Linked DNA regions of Homo sapiens: region 1 is linked to region 2. The links come from fine-mapping of genetic effects on gene expression. Tissue or cell type: monocytes. Region 2 holds a variant in brackets; the other region holds the start of a gene. All regions are shown on one strand. Distances are between the middles of the regions.

What was found. PIP is the estimated chance that this variant, and not a neighbour inherited with it, causes the effect.
Region 1: PTPRC starts here. The variant in region 2 is fine-mapped to the expression of PTPRC in monocytes (Fairfax 2014, PIP 0.92).

What each region holds. Positions count from the first base shown.
Region 1 is chr1:198,635,951-198,644,145 of GRCh38, forward strand. PTPRC (protein tyrosine phosphatase receptor type C) reads left to right here and starts at 3,090. Exons shown (of 33, transcript NM_002838.5): 1 at 3,090-3,187; 2 at 3,276-3,391. The coding sequence starts at 3,319.
Region 2 is chr1:198,681,434-198,689,628 of GRCh38, forward strand. The region is part of intron 2 of PTPRC (protein tyrosine phosphatase receptor type C); the gene reads left to right. Among named protein-coding and RNA genes, the nearest start is that of PTPRC-AS1, 18 kb to the left of the region's middle. RefSeq lists an enhancer at 237-807. The variant T/TA (reference allele first, on the strand shown) is at 4,193.

The DNA of each region.
Region 1 (8,195 bases), 45 kb before region 2:
CCTCCAGAATAGACCAAATATCCTATTATATGCTTAAATCACAGTGTGGAAGTATTGCCTTTGTGATGAAAGTGTCATGATGACTGGATAATTAATTATTGTGTCTTCCACTAAAGTGTAGATAGGAAAGAAAGCATGCCTGTTTTTGCTCACCATTTTTTCCTCATGTCAGGTAAAATGACTGGATTACATTAGGAACTTGCTCTGTATTTGTTGAATGAATGAGTGAATGAATGCATGAACAAATGAGTAACATCTGCCTCTGTAGTTAACTTGTAATCTGTTTCTGTCTTTATATAACCTCTACTGTAGGTAGCCTTAAAAATCTGGAAAATGACTTTATTGATTTAAGTAAATATTAAGTTTTTAAGCTTTTAAAAATCTATTGTAAGTTGATTAACTATGATTATTTTGAAATTTTCTTCATCAAAATTTGAGATGACTTTGGATACATACTGTTTTCAGCTACTCAACAAGTGCCATTGTATTTACTATGTATGAAATCTGGTGTTACTTCCTGCCCATTTCCTAGACTCAGTTGTTCTTTGCAAAATACCCATTTATCAGCAACCAGCCCACCCTCCCTCTGGGAATCAGTGAGAGTGGATCACATCAGTATGTCATAAATACTCCTCCTGTTTTCTTTGAGAGTTTTCTGCTGATGCAAGCGGAAGGCTTGGATGCCAGGCCTGTATGTGATACAGTAGAAATTTCCCCAGATGCCCTGTGGAAAGACAAGCTGCTACCCGGAGTCCTTCCTGGATGTCTGGCTTAGTGTAGTATACCATCAAGGACAACCTGGCTCTGTCTCCTAACAAGCTGCTAGGGCCTTCCCTCTTGCCTACCCTCCTGACAGCCTGGACCTCAGGCTAACAAACCTCTGGGTTGCCACTGTCTCCATTCTGAGCCATCAGAATTGTATATACATTCATCTGCTGATGTCTCTGTATTTCAAGCTGTATGTCTTTACACCTTTATAATACACAGTACAGATTTTGCTGCTTAAAATTCTAGTATTTCCTATAGACACTAAACTCAATTTTAACACAATGAATATGTTAAAACATTATATATGTGTTGGATTAACACATATAATGCAACTCATTTGTTGCTAATCTATCTTGGATTCCTTGGGTAGAATCTGTCTTCTCACCTGTCTGAAATGGAATTGAATCTCCTAACTTCTTACTATTTTTTTAAAGCCACAAATCCCTTTTAAAATGTCCGTTTAAGGCTGCTAAACTCACATTGTTATAGAGTATATTTTATATACTTTTCTTCCTTTTAAAAGATCATATACACTTTTCTCCTGGCCTCTAATTTTGCCAAATATTCTGCCATAACAGCAAGCTCACAGAACACAAGTATTTGCTTAAAGATATTTAAAGCAAATCCCCAAAGAGTTTTCTGTTGCAAATGTATTTTAAGACATAGGCTGAGGAGCTGAGTATTCAAATCCATGAGTTCTGACACTGATGTTTTATTAGGCCTACCCACATGAAAATTAGTGCTTACTTGCACAGTTATCTTATTTAAAAATACATTTGCAAAAAGAGAATAATTTCATTTTCACTGATTCAAAGGTCTATCTTTTCGAGTATTATAAACTTACATAGTACAAAAAGATTGGTAAAAGGGATGAGAAAAATAAAGGGCAATAGTAAGGTGAGTAAGGAAAGCAAAATTAAACTTGGAGACTTGGGTTCTAAATATAGCTTGTCTACATCCTAGCTGCAAGATCTTAGGCAACTCAACTAACCTCTCTGAACATCACAGATAAAATGGGGAATAATAACATTATCTAGCTCAAGGGTATCGTACAAATTATACAATATATGTAAAGTGCAAAGCATAGTTCCTGCACATAGTAAGTGCTCCATAAGTTAAATATAATAATAATCATAGTAAAATAATATTCTTAACTACAATCTTATTAAAAGGTTATTACCTAGAGTTTAAGCTGTGGGGTTATTTCCATTTGCACAAAGTGTGATAGAAATTTGGCTCTGTAGTTCCTAGCAGCCAATGTAAGAGTAAAACAAAAAAGTTTGTAAGTATCAAAAGATTTATTTACTTAAATATAAGAACCCTACAATAATGCTTCCAAACTAGGGTTTGCAGAATTACCACAAGGGCTCTGTCTGTCTAAAAGTCCCCCAAGCATTATCTATTGTTCAAATAAATGAGTTGCACATGTGTGTACTTTTATTTTTAAAGGCATATAGATATTGTATTAATAAAACCAATTCATCTAATTGTATTGTTGAATTTATACTTTTTGCCAGTAAGCATTTTCCTAATAGATGGACTTAACTAAGAACATCAGAATGGTGAAGAGCATTGTGTTAATACAATTCATTGTCTTATTTGTTAAAAAAGTTGAAAAAGTATTGCTGAGAAAAAGGAAACAAGTTAACTTTTGTTAAAGGTATCTCTTGGTTTTCACTGTCCTTTCCCTCATCAGTAGCGCCAAGAACATCTTAAGTCACAGAAACATTAGTTTTTGGAAGCAGGGTTTGCTGTAACTATAGTAGAAATGACATTCTGATTCCACTCCTAGCTTCACAAGGATATCTGTGAAAGATTTGGGGCAAAACTGTTAAGCTGTCTGAAAGTGCTTTTGCATAAGAAATGGGTTTTACTGCTAAAACTGTCATATTGCTGAGTTTTGAATGCCCTAATGGTAAATGATACTGGGTTGCCAAAAATAACCAGATTAGTAGTTTTTTCATTCATTTGGCCGTCTCAGTAAGTCAAATATTGATACTTTCTACTAAGTCATCTTGCCAACACCCATTTTGTTATACTTATGCTGAATCTGTTTGTCATCTCTTAAGTAAGAAAATTATTGATTATTTTGTGGGGATTTAATTTAAAAAAAATGGTAATGGATACTGTAAAGGAGCATTATTTGGATGGTTTAAAAACATCTTCCTTGATGGGAAAATCTTTTAAAAGGCTTTCTAACTTGGTGTAATTACTTGAATTAAGGAAGTGCAATGCCATTCTACTGACTTAGAACAACTTTTTTGACTTCCTGCAAAGAGGACCCTTACAGTATTTTTGGAGAAGTTAGTAAAACCGAATCTGACATCATCACCTAGCAGTTCATGCAGCTAGCAAGTGGTTTGTTCTTAGGGTAACAGAGGAGGAAATTGTTCCTCGTCTGATAAGACAACAGTGGAGAGTATGCATTTATTTATTTACTTTTACATTTTTGATTCGTTTTTACAGAGAAAAACTTCTACAGAGATAACAATTATTTTGCTTTTCAGAAGGACGCATGCTGTTTCTTAGGGACACGGCTGACTTCCAGATATGACCATGTATTTGTGGCTTAAACTCTTGGCATTTGGCTTTGCCTTTCTGGACACAGAAGTATTTGTGACAGGTAAGTACAAGGATATTAATATTTTTTAAATTATTTTTTCTCTTTTGGAGGAATGTTTGAAATAGACATAAAAATAATTTAAATGTGTTGGTAACTGGAAGTGAGAAGCCTGCTGTAAACCATCAAGATTGTTGTCTCAGGGAGACATAGCTAGTTGTGTGACAGAATACATTGTTTCTGTTTACAAAGACATAAATGTTTCGGGACAAAAAATACAATTTTAAAAGGAAAGCAATGTCTATCTGTATCTTTATTTACAACTGTTCAAAGATATTACAAAAGCAACATTATTACTTAACTTCCAAAGTGACAATAACACACATTTATAAAAGCCTGAGAATTTTTTAATGATAAAATAAGTGAGTTTTTATTCTTTTAACAAATTTGATCTTTTAAAAAGTCATAAAACAGCTTTGGTTGTATGTAAGCCACTCCCTCTTTTCAGACCTGAAGTTTGCTTCCTCAAATTTTGAATTTAATTGACATATTTTATTGAATACTTGGGTATATAATAGTTCAAAAATATATTGAGATATTTAGTAAAATATTAACTTTCTGCAATTTTTATCACAGAATGTATTTTAAATCAAGTTTTTAGTTTCTTGTTAATAGTTTTAATACATTTTTGCTTTAGAAATTCTTGTGGAGCCACCGCCCTTCCTGGGTGGTGGGTAAATATTACAGCCTTGATGAGATAGAAATATTTAAACTCTTAAAAATCATGCAAATGCTGTATTCAGTAGGAAAATGCAACTAGTTGGACTTCCAGTGCCTATTAAAGTTTGAAATCTTTGCACATTTATGGTCTATTCAATGGATAGTTCTTGAGCGGCGTCAATATGAATCATGAGTACATTTCAATAGATTATAGAATGTAACTAATAATTAATATTTAATATTTCTCTTTATGATGTAGTATCTAAAAGGACATTGAAAATAAAATTTTTGTAGAAATTCCAAAAAGTATAAAAAGTATTTTAAAACAACTTGCTTATTACAATTCACTTTGAAGTCTTTTTTTGACTTTTACCGTTCTTCTTTCCTCTGAAAGTCAGGGAAGTAGCTACCTCTTGAGCATGTTACATTGACAATTTCTATTTGGAGAGGAAAGAAAGAGGAAAGAAAAACAACATAAGATTTTTGTTGTTGTTGTTGTGGCTGTTTTGCTTTTTATTGCAAAGGTGAATTTTTTAAAAATCTATATATTTGCAGCATTTGTCTTAGTACAGAAAATGTTTATCAAGTTACCATCCCTTTAAAGCTTATGATAATAAAAAGTAAATTATAAAGAATAATAATCTCAATGAAGTGATATATGTATATTATCACAAATCAGAACAGATTTTCATTTAAAATTCCCACTCAGGAAATGTCGAAAAGCATTTTTAAATGAGCATAAAGAAATACTGAGACATTTTGTAAGCCAGAATATTTTTCTTCTCTTCATATTCATTTAACTTCTATTATTTTCTTCAGGTCTAGCTCCATTGCTTTTTATTCCAGGCAAACTTCCCAACCTCCTGAATAGACCAAATATCCTATTATATGCTTAAATCAGAGTGTGAAATATTTCCTTTGTGAATAAAAATTCAACTCATTCTATTACAGGATGTTTTTTTAACCATAAGACACATCTTTGAATTTATAATTGAAATAATATGATGGGGTCTAGAAACCTTTATATCAACTTTGCTGAATGATTTATACCATAGCAAATAAATGGATATACATAAATTTATTTTGAAAACTCAACTTTATCTTCAGTTGCTCACATAAATATTGAGAGCAAACATTTTTCTAAAAGACATTTGTAGACTCCCTGAGATATATGCTTATTTGTGGAAAAACATATACAGATATAATCATTTGTATCTGCAAATATTGTTTATAATCCTTTCAAGTTGCAAGAAACATTTTGTGATTTAATGTATAATTTGGAAAATTCTTAATGCTTTAAATTATTTATTTTTCTTTTTTAGCAACAAATGAGTTGGATTCTATGTTTCATTTTAACGTGTTAAAATTAGTTTAGTGCCTACAGGAAATAATAAACTTTTGGGGAACAAAATTTATATTGTATGCTGTAAAGGCATAAAGAAATAGAGCCAAATGTAGAGAGCCATCAATGGTAACTCTATGCATAATTCAAATATTTTATTTAATATCTAAAATGCACACACGGACAAGGCCAAAGTTAATCTTTGCCACGGCAACAACCAGGCAGGGTTCAGTTTTACTCAAGACTTCCTAATCCTCTTGCTCTGTGCCTCTTTGCCATGGCAACTGGAAGCCAAACTTTGTTTAGAATTTCTAAATAATGTTAGGGGACAATGATGGTTTTAAGAAGGCAGGTGAAGGTGAGTGTTCTCTGGTTCTAATAAAGTTGTAATGCCAGGCAGATCTACCACACTATAGCATGGCAGTTAGGAGTATATGAGTTATGGTATGTGAGGTATATGATGAGTTTTGTTATGAGTCATAACAGTTAAGACTCATTTCCTGGACATAATTCTTCATTTTTCCATCTGTATTAAAAATATATATCTCATGTTATAAACATGGACTGTGCCTTGCACATCACAGACATTCAATGAAAATTATTTAATTGAATTTGGTAAGCAGTCCTATTAAGTTCTAAATACTCCATAATTTAGAGATTTGGGAATGTGATTAGAATTACTTATTAATTTGAAAAAAAATGTCCTACTAAAAACCTGCCTGTGACCTTTATCATTGCTAAAGTTTGAAATGTACTTTGTTACAGGAAAGACTACGGCTAGGGCCTATATTATCTTTTTCTCTTTTGTTCTGTGTAAGTAAGTATAGGGGCAGAGTAGTTAGCTTGAACTTAGTTCTTTCTTTGTTCTGGACTATTTGCTATCCTCTCACCAGTGACAATTAACCAGTATAGAAATATAGATGTTTCTACATTGTTCATATACTTGAACATATATTTCTTTATGTAGATACTCACACATAAACTAGTTATATATTTGTGGGTTATATATACTAGTCAATCTATCTATCTGTCTATCTATCTATCTATCTATCTATCTATCAGTTCTCCATGTTTGTCTATTTGGCGTTCCCATGAACTTCAGACCTTCGCCTGTGTTCTCTTTTCTCCATTTGGTTACGTATCATTGCCTACTATGTGTTGATCACTCTGATTCTCCATCTCTAGACTCATCCCTCAGAAACACGGAACTTACTACCTTTCCTAAATCCAGACATTAACATGCTCCCCAAGTCCTGAAATTTTGCTTTGTAATAATCTCTAATAACTTCTTGCTTTGACACCTCCATTGCCATCATCTTAATTCATGGCTTTATTATTTCTCACCTGTAAAATTGTAATAGTTTTTTTAATCAGTCTGAAGTCTCATCCTTTTTTTAATGTAATCTACAGCTTAAAAAGTAAAATAAAAAGTGAAGGGTTACTGATTTCTTCTCATTGCCTTTGGTATAAATTCTAATCTTTTTTGCCAGAGAAACTGGTTCCACTAATGATCTGGGGGCTAGGCCTGGAGCTGGGAAGGGATCTTTTTTCTTTTCTTTCTTTCTTCCTTTCTTTCTTTCTTTCTTTCTTTCTTTCTTTCTTTCTTTCTTTCTTTCTTTCTTTCTTTCTTTTTTCTTTCTTTTTCTTCTATGATTGATTAAAAGAAAACAAACAGGAGGTAGTTTTAACACCCACCTCTATACTTTCTCAAGGTGTTTAAGGTTCTGGGCAAATCCTACTTCTTCTATTATGTTCTCTTATGTCACTTTTGCCACAAAATATTTCCATTGAATTGCACACTTTTTATCACCTTTTCTTGGCATTTTTCAAGTCATTTCAATCTGCTCTTTTTTGTGATGATGATTGATGATGATGATGACATGTGAATTAGTGGATTTCTTGACATTGTAACCTACATGAAATCAGGTATAGGAGACACAAAAGGCATAAACTCATAGTTCCCATACCTAATTTTTCACCAGACACTGAATAAATCATAGATTAAAAAAATAAAACTGCATATTGTAGTGACAAAGGAAAGGAAAATTTTCAAAGAGGGAAGTCAAAAAGAGGGAGAATATGAGATAAAAAAATTAACCAGAGGCGAAGTGGGAGGATGAAGACAGCAGGACTATTTTGTCCAGATTAAATTAAGTTGATTTTGGATCTAGATGTTTACAGTCTTGCCTTTTTGTTTTTGTTTGTTTGTTTGTTTGTTTTTTCTTTGCTCCCTTTCTTACTCTCCTTATCTCACCTCTCGTCTGGAAAGAGCCTCCTGACTTCCTAAAAGTTCATAGTTTGAGAATGTTTTTCCTAAATTTTCTTTGATCTGCTCTTTGGACATTCTAGGTAATGTAATTTGGAGGGTCAATTTTATTTTTCAGATACACATACCCATAGGAGAAAAAGCAAGGAATGGGAGGGAAATACAAATGTAGCGGAGTGATAACACAAACAGATCAGGTCCAGTCATGGCAATTGCTGGTTTGAACACTGATGCTAGTGCTCTGGGATTGCTTGCAAGGGCAGATGGAATATGGTGCACCCTAGGTGTTGCATTATTTGCACGACAAAAGTTTGTAGAGAGCTGGGAATAATTTCTTTACAGACAGTGTGGTGATGAATGTCAATCTGAGTAGGTAAGGGGCAGAGATTTGTACTGAGGTTGATTCATTCTCTTGGTAAATACACAATGTTCACAAAGGCAAGGTTTCATCTTCAGACCATGTGTGTATATGTCACCTTGGTGCAGAGAGAGAAATTTTTCATCAGTGCTGACCTTTGATTTTTTTTTCTAGACATCTT
Region 2 (8,195 bases):
ATTTGCTTGCAAAGGGTGCAATGTGATGTTTCCTACTGGTAGGGTCGTATTTCATATGTGGTGATAGTGTTGCTGAACAAATAGGAAATATCCTTGCCTAGACTATATTTTATCATTTCATTATCTAGTGGTAAAGGAATGTGAGTTCTATTTACAAATAAACATTTTGTCTTACTTTTTTCTTTGTGATCTATTTTCTCCAAGTTGCATAATGTAATGAATTAATAAAGCTTAGTTGCTGGCCAAATCAATGGTGACTTTTTATGTTTTTAAATATAATATTAGGTTTAACTTATTTTTGTCATTAAAATATCATTTGTGAGTGCTTTTCAAAATGAAGTGCTTCTGAAATAAATCACATAATAAAACTAACCTTACTTTTGAAATACATTTTTATTGAAGCAAACACAAATCAATCTGAAATTCAGCATTTTGTAGCAGTTAAATGTATAGTCAGGCAGCTTCAACGTCAACTAGAGAAGTTGTGGTTTTAACCCCGAGATAGGGCTGATTATGCTGGTGCTATGGCAACCTATTGCACCATTTGGTAGCGCCTGTGTGCTTAACCGCATGAGCTGCGCCTCTTCCTTTCCTATAAAGACTCAGAATAAGAAAAACAGAAGTACACCGAAGAGAAGAAACCACAAGAGCAGTAAAGACACTGCTGTTAGCTTTTAGCTGTGCAAACAGCAGTCTTATGAGAACAACACATTGAAAACCTCTTCTATTTGAAAGTGTAGCTTTTCCCATTATGCCTGGGTTCCTTTAATGATTTTGAAAGTAAGCCAAGTGTTTCTGTTCAGAGTTTTCATTAAAGGGAAATAAGAAGAAATAAGCAGTGCATTTATCAGCCTTTGCTTTTATTGTCCTCAGCTTTAGGAGTGGGAGGCTTTTGTGCAGCCTCAGCAGACATTTTATTCTGTTTGTGAGATGGGAGATTAGTTTCTATTAGGTGGACTCCCTATAATCTAGCATTTATTTTCTGCTTTTTTTTATTATATTGTAGTTAGTTCACAAAAAAAAGTACAATTTTAATTCATCTCCTGGCTCATTTAGAAAGGGTTGTGGTTGGTGCTGTAAACACGTTTCTACATAACTAGATTAAATTCACAGACACTCACTGTCCTAGCACTGTTTATTTTCTATGGGGAGCTTCATTTACCTATTCTTTCCCTCACCCCACTTCTTTTACAAGGTATAGGTTGATCAGCAAAGGCTTTTGTATGTTTTCCTTTGTTTCAAAGTACAGACATAATATAATCATAACTTTTTTTTGCATGTTCTACTATTTTTCCTTCCTTAAAGATTTGGGTAAAAATACTGAAGGACAGACAAGTTCATGCTACCATTTTTGTTAGGCATAGGCCTGTTCACTTTTCTTCCCATTTTTCTGAAAAATAAGAATCTACCCCTTTTGTAGTCATTGTCCAGCAATTTACACTTTTTAACAATAAGTTTTAATGTGTGGTACTCTGAATCCCATTTTGATGGTTATACATAATATTTACTCATTTTTGAGTCCCTAATAGCTCTTTAGCACAAATACTGGATTTAGCATTAAATATTTTTTCCTTACAGTGCAATGCAGTTGAACAAGCATGGGGGTTTTTACAGTCAGACAGATCTGCATTTAAATCTAGACTCATTTTGCTACAAGTTCTTTATTTAGCCTTGCATACACGTTTTTATGATTTTGAGCTTTCATCTGTGAAAAGAAGAGAATACCATCTACTTTGTAGGATTTCTATAATGATTAGATAAAATAATATGTAACAGTATTTAGGACAGTGCCATTCACATAGTACCCGCTTATTAAATAGTAAACACTGTTGATAGCACCAAATACACTAATAAAAGATTTCACCACTTATGCAAACATCTTTTGATGATTCTTTGTTCTTTAATGATGATCGTAACCTATCCTAGAGGAAGCAAAGAGCTACAAAAACATACACTTACTAAGGGATTAATATAATTAAATGGTTTTTGCTATCTGAAGTATATTGCATAAATCAGGTATATATCCCTGGATTTAGGTAAATGAAAACAGACATTTTCATAAGAAGCAAAAAGATAATTAATATGGGAACAAACCTATTCTGGAAAATGTTTAAAAAGAGAATATGGGTAAGGAAGCATCTTTCTCAGTTGTTCTTAACCCTTGTTTCCATCATAATCACCATCAGAGCTTTAAGAAAATACCAGTGCACAGATCACGTTACCCCACAAACCTACTAAATCAGATTTTCCAGCGCTGGAGCCCAGAAATAGTCACCTTTAATCTAATTCCCAGTCAGGATTAATACAAATAAAGGATTGATATTTTTTCTTCCTCAGGATAATAATACTGGTTACACACACATAAATATACATAACTGATAACAAGCCAGAATTTTGTAAACTATGTTCTCAGAAACATTGCAGTTACATTGTACAAATGTCCTATAGTATGTCCATGGGAAAAAAATGGGTTTGTGGCAAATACTTTTAGGAGATCTTGAGCTAAACGAAGTGACATAAGTTTCTATGCTTTTAATATATTAACACACTTTATAAATATCTCAAAAGGGCATGTAGCATGAATTACTTCTGAAACAAATTTGACTATGGGACATTTAAAGGCACACAAATCTAAATCAAAGACTTCAATTTGACCATCATTGCACAGGAAGCGATAAAATTTTCCCCCTGACTTGTAGATAAATAGTTTAAGACAGAAAAAAAGCAGTGTAACTGATTGTTCTTAAATGGTTATCTAGTAGCCTTTATTAATTTTTTTGTCATTAATTGTTTCGTTAATCAACATGCCTGAAATATATAACATGATGTTTTAAACCAAATATAAAATACCTACAAATGCATTCCTAGTTTTGAGGTGTGTGTTTGCAAAGTCATATGTATTCACAAGCAAAAAACATTATTGTAAATATTGGACACCATAAGTCATTGGGAGACAGCTAGATATGGTTGCTATCTTTAAAATTTTTTAATTATTTGATTTTATTCCTCTCATGGCCACAAAAATTTGCCTTCTTTATCCTCAATACTGCTTTACATACTGATATTTTTCTTTATTATTTGCATTATTATTTAAAAGTGTGTATATAATTTGAAAGTTTAAATAGTACCATAAGGCCTAGAGTAAGTAAGAACAGTCTTTTGCTCCCACGACTCTCCCCTCCCTTGATATTTTGTGATTTTTAAATGTTATCTTTTATTGTAGTGCTGTTTCTTTAAAACAAAAAAAAAGATTTTTGCCAGTATCTATTGACTTCTTCTCTTGATCTTGAGATGTTGCTTTTTATAACCTCTTGCTCTTTGTTCATGGGTGCAATGTTTTCTCATTTCTGAAAATATGAATTGTAGTTGGTTATCCTCTCTTTTGCTCCTTGCATTGCCTCATTCTCCCAAGTGCCTCTTTTGTTTATTTGAGCTCTATCTTTCTTTCTTATTAGAGGCTTTGTTCTAGTGTTTCTTGGATGTCCATTTGTATTTAATAAAAGGCCTCAATAAAGGGATGTTGAAATTCTTTGGACATTGGTGGAGCTCATAAATTCATGTGCTTTAACTAGATTGAATGAAATCAGAAAGGCACTACACTCACTGAGTCTTAGTTTCCTTATATATCAAATGAACTGCATGTCAATAATCACTAAAATCCTTTGCTTCTGTCTGAGTAGAAATCTTTGGAATTATTTTCTGATGATAAGCAGAAAGTCCTTTACTCATGAGATTCCAAAAATAATATTAATATACCCAATATTTTAACATAACGTCTACATAAAGAATAAGAAAATTATTAAATAGACACTATTTCAAATCTAGCACTTTCCTCGTGTGTGCCTGTGAGCAATTTACTAAACTCTTTTAGGTCCCAGTTTCATTCCCTATAAAAAAGGATAAATAATGCTAACTCATTGGCTTACTGGGATGCTTAAAAGAAAAAAAATACATATATATTATATAAAGAGGTGTGCATAGTGTCTGCTACATAACATTTCAGTAAACTGTTGCCATCATTATTATATTTACTGATAAGCTAATGGAGGGTAGAAAAGACTGTTTCCTGTGGTTCTCTGAAATCATAATACCTGGCTTGTCGCTGCCCAGAGTGCTTACTCCATAAATACTTAATAATTTAATATGATTTGTTAGATTTATTGTCTGTGGACCATATAGCAGATTTCTAGCA[T/TA]AAAAAAAGTGCAATTCTCTTATTTTTATTGTGCACTTTATTATTATCATGCATTGCTAAGAAAGGAAAGCCATACATATCTGTTTTAGCTGACCCTTATTTTTTGTCTTGATTTGCTTTTTTCCACTTTTGTACAGGCTTTATGTTTATGGAGGTCAAGTATGCATTCTCAACCTTCAAAACATGCTATCATTCATTTTAGGGCAGATGCTGAGAATAAGTATTTATTTAATCTATTCTATTTTACCCTTCTGCCCTTGTACTTTTCCCAGATTTGCAGAACTAGACAGGTTTAAATTCCCTAGGAAATAGCATCCCATTTTTTTTTCTTTTTTTTTTAGCGGGGAGGGAGAACGGGTGATATTTAAAGCCCAAGTATGTCTTTTGAAATGCCGTTTTCACTCAAATTGATTCCTAGTTTTTGCTGAAATCTCTGATCAGGGACTTAGGGGTGTGACTTCAAGGTAACTTTGATTTGTGATCATTTAAACATTTTGAGTTGTAAAAGAAACATATTGGGAAAGGTAAATTCAGTAACAATACATGTGTTAGAATAACACAGCTTTGAAGATCAAGTGTTCTGTTATCTACATTTTCATCTGTTTAATGTATCTAGTCAATTCCATTGGTGATTCACAACAGGATTATAATGGGAAAAAGAGCTCTTAGATAATTTACAGTTTTTTAGTGCTATGGTGCCACCTACTGAAATATTACTAAATACTCCTTTGACTAAATAATGAAAACACAAGACATTTAAGTTTTAAAAAATGTAGAAAATTTCATCCCTAGAAGATAAAAGTCAAAGTGTAGAATGTAGTAACTGTAATATGTGGAACACTAGATATATTACTGTGTTTTATTTTATATTTATTTGATGTGTTTATAGAATTTGAGAGAAAGCTCAATGCAGTTCTTACTTTGAGAAATAGTGATGCCTTCTCTTTATTGTCACACACCTACACATGTGCCCTCTTAATTTCCATTGCTATGTCACATATTTTGCTTTACCTATTTTCCACACTTTCCCAGTATTGTTCATAAAGAATGTTTACATATATTGTAGTGTAATTTGTATTAAACAATCTCCAAATATTAAATATTTATTGTGCACTGGTTATAAAATACTTTATGCAAAAATTTTGTTTGCTTTTCCCAGATCTATTTGACTCCACTAAGAATATATTGTTGCTTTTAAGTAATACAGGAAATAGGGTAGAGTACAAGGCTGTCTACATACATAAAACAACTTAGGTAACTACATCAGTTCATTTGTTTTGCATTGGACAAGCACAGTAATATTTAACCATATACTCCAGTCTAAATGGATAGGTCATGAAGTAGTTAAATATGTTATACAACCAATCTTTTGTTGTTGTTGTTGTTGTTGTTGTTTTTGAGTCAGGGTCTCACCCTGTCACCCAGGCTGGAGTACAGTGGCACCATCACATCTCACTACAGCCTCAACACACACTCATGGGCGTAGCCTCCCAAGTAGCTGGGACTATAGGTGTGCACCACCCTACCCGGATAATTTTTGTATTTTAAGTAGAGACGAGGTTTTGCATGTTTCCCAGACTGGATTGCTTGGTTCAAGCGATCCAGCTGCCTCTCCCTCCCAAAGTTCTGGGATTACAGGTGTGAACCATTGCACCTGGCCACAACCAATCTCATCAGGTCTTTTTTTTCTATCAGTGAAGATTCAGCACAGTGGCTTCTATCTATGATTTTGGTAATGTTTAATAATGTTTGCACATATGAAGTGCAACAGACAATTGAAGTCATTGCTCATGTAATTTAGGAAGAATTAAAATATGATAGAGAATTAATAAATTATTGCAGATATTTGGTTTTATAGTTTTCTCTAAATAGTTAAGTACCTTCACCTACTCCCTACCTTGTTTCATATATAAAGGCATTCTCCACCAAAGTATTTGTTAGTGTTCTGCTAACGTTGATGTAAAAATCATTAGATGACTGGGGGGGCGGGGTGTGGGGAATGTCCTTTAGATGTTACGTAGGTGTTTTAACTAAGCTATTTTATATAGGTCACATTTAGCGTGTTCCTACTTTAAGACTGGTAAAATGTTTAACATTAAAAAGACTGAAAAATAGATTTATGTAATCTAGTGCACATGGCTTATTAAAATTGATATGTTGCTTTAAGTTGCATCACTCTAGTGCATACCTTATTTCCTTAGGGGCATTGGCTTAAATTTTAAAGTAGTTTTTAATTTAAAATTTTTATTTTAAATAGATTCTATGTGTTTTTTTCAGGCACGAAAACATTTTTATGTCATTTATCATGTTGACTAAAAGTGTTACCAAAACTAAAAATCTGTTTATAGGGATTTTATGACCATGAGAACAAGCAAGTTGAGTCTTACACTAAGTCTAAACAGTGATGCTGAAGTCTTGGAATTTTCTTTTAAAAAGATAAAATGGTGTGTGGGGTGTGTGTGTGTGTGTGTGTCTGTGTGTGTGTGCACGCACATATTTGAAATAGTATATAAAAATGAAATAAAACATAGATTACAATGTTTTAGTGTCACCTAAAAATCACTCAGTGGAGGAATTTAGAATCATATCCAGTGATAAATCAGTGTACAAGCAAACACATATTCAATTCAAGAGGCCTTTATGGGAAGTAAGCATGAACATAGAAGAAAGGAAAATGTTGGCTCTTTAGATATTATACTGTTTTCCAGGATATTAAATTTTGCTGCATTAAAGATGAAAAGATTCGAGGAAATTTTGAATATGGAGCGATGATGAGATCAGAAAAAAATGTATATGTATGCCCATTATTCTGTCCTCTAGCTCCAGAAACCTCTTAACATCTAAACAAAAGGTCTGTAAATTTTAATAATTGTGCTTGATATTAGTGTAGTTTGGTTGACTTTCCTGTCAAAATAGTATTCTGTAATAAATTAACTTGACACACCTCTAAATTTTCTCTAATATTTGTTTGTACCATTATAGAGCATTCACTCAGCACATTGTGATTTAATCTGCATATCTATTTTTAGGGTCAAGGTTATTTTAGCATTTGTAGCACTACTAGTAATTTACTTGCAGCCAAATTATGATTAAGATGCATTTTTACTTAGCTCATGAGTTTTTAATAAACACCTTCTGTAAAAGAATTCTCATGCTTAAAATTTCATATGAAGAGGAAAGGCTGTAAGGACAAGTTGATGGGAAAAGGGGACGCCTGATGAATGAGAGCATGGCCTGTAAAGTCAGACAGGCTCAGGTTCAAGTCTGGCTCACATATACTAGACTGGCCTTGTGAACTTGGCCAAGACACTTGACTTTTCTAAGCTTCTTAGGGTTTTTGTGGTGCTTAAGAAAGAAAACATAAGCAAAAGACTTAGTATAGTGCCTGGCACCCAGTAAACACTCAATAAATATTAACAATTAATAACAATAAAATATTATTTCTAAATTATTCTTTAAAAAAGTAAATCATTAGAAACAGTCTTCTCCGTTTTGGTAATTTACCTCTTGTCCTTCTTTTCAGAAGTTAGATTAAAATAATATACATCATGTATTTCTTTTAAAAAACGTATTGCCTTTGGACCACTTGGAAGTTTATTAATCTCTCTGAGACATGGAACATATACGTAGTCTGATGAATAGTGTACTGGTTGGAAACAGTTCTAGTATATTTACTCAGGCATTCACAGTTCTTTTGTTAAAAAACAAATAGCTTCACATAGTGTCCCAGCATTTTTCTTCTCATTTCTGTGGTAAACAGATGATGAATTATAATTTTCTTTTATGAAACTCTATCTATAGTTGGTGCTACACATTTTGGTGACAACAAAGTAGTAAATCAGAACAACAGAATATAGGGGTCTGTGGAATTAGTGGTGCAGGTAACATTAAGATTTCTCTTTTCTCTGTCATCAAATTTGCTTTCTGATTTCTCCTCTGTATTAACTGATCCAATGGCTTCCGTCATTCTGAGGAAAAAGTTCAAGCTCCTTTTCAAGGCCTA